Linked DNA regions of Homo sapiens: region 1 is linked to region 2. The links come from fine-mapping of genetic effects on gene expression. A gene starts in region 2. The other region holds a variant in brackets. All regions are shown on one strand. Distances are from middle to middle.

Region 1 (2,906 bases), 110 kb after region 2:
CAGTGTGACATTGGTAAAGGAACGGAGTAGAGAACCCATAAATAAACCCAAACAAATGAAATCAACTGATCTTTGATGAAGGAACAAAGGCAATTCAATAGAAAAATATTAGTCTTTTCAATAAATACTGCTCTAATAAATGCACCTGTAGTCCCTTCTACTCAGGAAGTTTTGCATTTTACACATGCAAACATAAAAAAAAGAATCTAGACAGAAATTTTTAACTGCTGCTCTGAGAACATCATTGCTAAGAGAATGAAAACCCACAGACTTGGAGAAAATATTTGCAAATAACTTTTCTGATAAAGGATTTGTATCCAATATATACGAATAACTCCCAAAATGCAAAAATAAGAAAATAAGCATTCCAGTTTAAAAATGGACAAAATATCTGAACGGAGCTCACCAAAGAAGATATACATATGGCTATAACCATATGAAAAGACGCTCTACATCATATGTCATTAGGGAATTACAAATTCAGAACACAATGAGAATTAGCTGGGCATGGTGGCATATGCCTGTAGTCCAGCTACTTAGGAGGCAGAAACAGGAGGACCTCTTGAACCCAGCAGTTTGAGGCTGCAGTGAGCCATGATCATACCACTGTACTCCAGCCTGGGCAAGAGAGTAAGAACCCATCTCTAAAATAAATACATAAATAAATAAATAACAAAAACAACAATGAGAAACCACTATACACCTATTAGATAGGCTAAAATCCAAAAACCTGACAGTATCAAATGCTGACAAGGATGTGGACATAGAAAAACAGGAATTCTCATTCATTGCTCTTGAGAATACAGCCACTTTGGAAGATGATCTAGTAGTGCCTTCCAAGCTAAACATAGCCTAACCATATGGCCCAGCAATTTCACTCCTAGGTATATACCAAAATTAGTTGAAAACTTATATACACATAAAAACCTACACATGAATGTTTATAGCAGCTTTATTCAAAACTGCAAAAACTGGAAGAAATCAAGATATCCCCTCAATTGGTGAATGAACAAACTGACACATTCATACATTGGAATATTATTCAATGATAAGAAATGAGCCGGCTGGGGGCAGTGGCTCAGGCCGGGCACGGTGGCTCATGCCTGTAATCCCAGCACTGTGGGAGGTCAAGACAGGCAGATCACCTGAG[G/A]TCAGGAATTCAAGACCAGCCTGGCCAACATGGTGAAACCCCTTCTCTACTAAAAATACAAAAATCAGCTGGGTGTGGTGGTGCGTGCCTGTAATCCCAGCTACTTGCGAGGCTGAGGTAAGAGAATTGCCTGAACCCAGGAGGTTGAGGTTGCAGTGAGCTGAGATCGTGCCACTACACTCCAGCCTGGGCGACAGACCGAGACTCCATCTCAAAGAAAAATAAAAAAGAAAAGAAAAGAAATGAGCTACCAAGCCATGAAAAGACATGGAAGACCTTAGATGGATATTGCTAAGTGAAAGAAGCCAATTTGAAAAGGCTACATACTGTATGATTCCAACTAAGTGACAATTTGTTGTTTTTTGTTTTTTTTTTTTGAGACAGGGTCTCACTCTGTCACCCAGACTGGAGTGCAGTGGCATGATCTCTGCTTATCGCAACCTCCACCTCCCAGGCTCAAGCAATTCTCCTGCCTCAGCCTCCTGAATAGCTGGGATTACAGATGCATACCACCACACCTGGCTAATTTTTGTATTTTTAGTAGAGACGGGGTTTCACCGTGTTGGCCAGGATGGTCTCGAACTCCTGACCTCAAATGATCCACCCGCCTCAGCCTCCCAAAATGCTGTAATTACAGGCATGAGCCACCACGCCCCACCTAAGTGACATTCTATAAAAGGTAAAACTACAAAGACAGTGAAAGATCCAGTGGAACTGTTGTGGGAATCAGGAGACTGGAGAGACCAATAGGTAGAACAGGGGGATGTTATTGAGTGCACTCTGGCCTAGTGGATTAACATCCAAAGACCGGGCCTAGAACAAAGACAGAACTTGACTTTTATACACACTTCTGAAAAGGGGTTGGCTAGTTTGAAACAAGGTTACAGTGATGCGAAGTGTAGTGGTGTGAAAGCAAGTGTATAGAAGCAGAACAAAGGCAGTTAATCAAACTATGACAGTTAGATTATGCCTGCTCAGGCATGTCTCATGACCTTTGCTGTGCTGCTCGGATAAAAAACAGAATACTTGAGGTTACTAGTTACAGAAAACAGGAATCTGGCCAGGCGCAGTGGCTCACGCCTGTAATCCCAGCACCTTGGGAGGCTGAGGCAGGTGGATCACAAGGTCACGAGATCGAGACCATCCTGGCTAACAAGGTGAAACCCCGTCTCTACTAAAAATACAAAAAATTAGCCAGGCATGGTGGCGGGCGCCTATAGTCCCAGCTAGTCAGGAGGCTGAGGCAGGAGAATGGCGTGAACTCAGGAGGCGGAGCTTGCAGTGAGCTGAGATTGCACCACTGCACTCCAGCCTGGGTGACAGAGCGAGACTTCATCTCAAAAAAAAAGAAAAAGAAAACAAAAGAAAAGAAAACGGGAATCTATAAAGTCATAAATGTACTCATACCATAGGGGAAAGGAAAATAAGGAAAATTTGTTTTTCTTCTCCTTATGTGGAGGGAGTGCTGGGAGAGTCTCCAGAGCACATTCCTTTGAGCCCTGGCTTCTTAGATAATGTTATCGAGACTTTGCCTGGGTCTGGGCTTTGCCTGTTACTGACTTTGGGATGAGCCAGCCTAATACAGAAAGCTTGTTTTTTTGAACATATTTTTCTCTTTTTAATTTTATTTTTCTTTCTTTCTTTAATTCCCACCTCAGAACTGTTTCAAAACTTTTTAGCTATTCTAGGGCTTGTATGTTTCCAAACAAATTTTAGTATAAGTTTGTCTGCATCTACAACAACAACAACAAAGTTG
Region 2 (2,847 bases):
AAATGTTGGAAAAACAGAAAAGCATCGGCCTAAATTTAACTGAGAAACTTTGTAGGCTGTTAATTTTGCAAACCACACATCCAGCATTCTTGCTTTGTTCTCTACACATAGACTGACACCTTTACCCCCAGAGGTCAGGCCCTCGATTGAGTTTTACCTCATGGGAATGAGTTCCCAGAAAGACAACAATGACGCTCGCTGGTGAGTCTCTCTAAGCTGCGTCTGCCAAGTTCCCAGAAGCCTGAAAGATACAAGAGTATGTATAAATATCTGCTTCTCCAGGCTAGGCGCGGTTGCTCACGTCTGTAATCCCAGCACTTTGGGAGGCCGAGGCGGGTGGATCGCGAGGTCAGGAGTTCAAGACCAGCCTGGCCAACATGGTGAAACCCCGTCTCTACTAAAAATACAAAAATTAGCCGGGCGTGGTGTTGGGCGCCTGTAATCCGAGCTACTCGGGAGGCCGGGGCAGAACTGCTTGAACCCGGGAGGCAGAGGTTGCAGTGAGCCGAAATCGCGCCACTGCACTCCAGCCTGGGCGACAGAGCGAGACTCTGTCTCAAATAAATAAATAAATATCTGATTCTCTCCCACTTCACAGGAAAATAAAAAATTGCAATGCTCCCAAACCCGGGGCACTTCTAACTACTTGATATGACAGCAAGGTCAACGTGGAAGGTTTTTCAAAATCTTTCGTTCAGACCACAGAGGACTTAAGCAGGACCGCTGCTCGCCAGGGTGCTCAGATTTTCATGCATAAGAGTCACGACCAGATGGCTCATCCCTGAGATATTCGTGGACTGGGAGGCGAGCAGGGAGCACAGGCGAGTCCTGGCGGACAGTCGCGAAGACCCCGCACGCGCCCTGGGCACTCCGCTATCCGGCCAGCGTCCGCACTCACCCGCTAGTCGGGCGCAGGGCTAGCGAGATACTTCGCAGCACGGAGGCCGTCATGGCTACCCTCGCCGCTTCCGGGCGTGCGCCCCTCCACAGTCCGGCCCGCGGTGCCCCCTGCTGAGGTCCGGCAGACCAGGCGCCCAGCGCTCAGGCGTTCCGGCTGCGTGGGCTGGGACGCGCCTGTCCCCGCCCCCGACGCAGCCCCGCCTAGGGTGTCAGCTGCGCACACACGAGGGCCTTGCGTTTCACGCGGCTCGGGGTCCTCCCTTCCGTCCCCGCCCTGTGCTGGGAGCGCGCCTCTGCAGCGGGCACAGTCTAGCCAGTCAGGCCCTAGCCGGTTGGTCGGTCTGCGCCCTCGCGCGGGCCTCGGCTCCGCAGTGCAGCCGGAGCGGCCGAGGGGGCGTCCCTCTGCTCCTCCGAGTCCAAATGTTCATGTCTAGGCAAACGGCCCCGATCTTCTAATAAACGCGTCCGCCCCAGCCTCCCCCACCAGGGTTGGCTCGTCCCCCGCATTCGTTCGAGTCCGAAGCCCGGATCGCATTCCGGCGCCGGCGCGGAGCCCGGCGCTCGCAAGATGCCCAATAGCGCGTGTTGATGAATGACGGAAGCTAGTTAATAAGTCGGACTCAGACTGGCGAGGCAGAGCTGGTGACGGGCGGTCCACGCCACCTGGGCCCCGCCTGCCTCTGCGGGCGGCCCGGGTTGCAACTGCAGGCCCCGCTCGCTGTCCGCCGTCCAGGCGAACCGCCCTTTCTGGGGCGCCCGCGCCCGGGCCCGACCCGAAGCCCCTGCCAGCGGAGGAGCCGGGGCGGCCCAGTCCGCGTGGGGAGCGGTTTCCCGCCGGGGCGATTTGGCAGGTGCGCGCCGTGACTTCCGGCGTTGCCCGGGAGCCGCCTGAGGAGGAGCGGCGCAGGGGATGCGGCTGTGGTGGCGGCGGCGGCGGCCGAGCGCGGGTGGCGGCTGTGGCGGCGGAGGGGGGCGCGGGCCGGCGATGGCGCGGCGGCCCTGAGGGCGCGGGGCGGGCGGCGGCCGGAGGGCGGGTGGCGCGGGAGGAAGCGGCGGCGGTGGCTCCATGGCCCGGGCGCGCTGAGGGACCCGGCGCTCGCCTCAGCCCGGCGGCGGCGGCGGCCGAACAATGAAGCTCCTGAAGCCGACCTGGGTCAACCACAATGGTGAGTGCGCGCAGGGGTCGCGGGAGGCCGAGCCCGGAGTCGGGTCGGGGTCTGGAGTCGAGTCGGGGCGCGCGCAAGTCCTGCCTGTCTCGCCCCTGACGCCCGGTACCCGGTGCCCAAGCCAAGAAGCCGGCGGGAGCGGACTTTGTCCTCAGCGCGGAGAGGCTGGTGAGCCCCAGCACGTGCTCCGGGTTGACCGCAGCGAGGGCCATCTTCGCCCCTGGCTCTTGCTCTGAGTCTTCCGCTGCCCACCTGTGGTCCTTGGAGGGGCCGCGGCCTGGCTCCCAGGAGCGGGCCTTGGTGCCAGCCAGTGCCTTCCACTGGTCTGCATCGCCCGAGAAGTGCTCAGACGGTCCTGAAGGTGAAACCGGGATGAAATCCCCCTTGTGGCCTTTCAGTGGCAGGATGAAGATCCGAAATCTGCAAGAGGGACTGTTACTGCCCCTCTGGATCTGGGGACAGTGCCCCCAGTTGGGGAATTGTGGTCCCTAAATAGGAGGGTTTGGGGGCCCCGGGCCCCCGCGAAGGATCCACGATTAATGCTGAGCTGGGACATCAGGGTGAACTAGGGTTGGGCAGATAGGGCACAGGTGTGTTCTAGCAGAGGGGCTTCTTAGCTCTGTGGCAGTGGCTCCAAAGCACACCCTTGGGGAACGGACTCATCCACCCCATATCTTGACTCTGATACAGAGAGGCTAGTGGTAATCAGTTTCGTCATAGTTCTGCCTTGTTGGCAGAACTGCTGCAGGAGTTGGTGTTTGCTCCCCGGGTAGATGAAAAA

Evidence for each region. PIP is the estimated chance that this variant, and not a neighbour inherited with it, causes the effect.
Region 1: its variant is fine-mapped to the expression of HIRA in whole blood (TOPMed, PIP above 0.99).

What each region holds. Positions count from the first base shown.
Region 1 is chr22:19,315,923-19,318,828 of GRCh38, reverse strand. The region is part of intron 1 of LOC105372859 (a long non-coding RNA gene); the gene reads right to left. Among named protein-coding and RNA genes, the nearest start is that of CLTCL1, 26 kb to the right of the region's middle. The variant G/A (reference allele first, on the strand shown) is at 1,151.
Region 2 is chr22:19,430,659-19,433,505 of GRCh38, reverse strand. It overlaps HIRA (histone cell cycle regulator), which reads left to right and starts at 1,773. Exons shown (of 25, transcript NM_003325.4): 1 at 1,773-2,066. The coding sequence starts at 2,030. It overlaps MRPL40 (mitochondrial ribosomal protein L40), which reads right to left and starts at 961. Exons shown (of 4, transcript NM_003776.4): 1 at 899-961; 2 at 158-241. The coding sequence starts at 951. RefSeq lists silencers at 887-1,196, 1,487-1,886 and an enhancer at 2,171-2,847.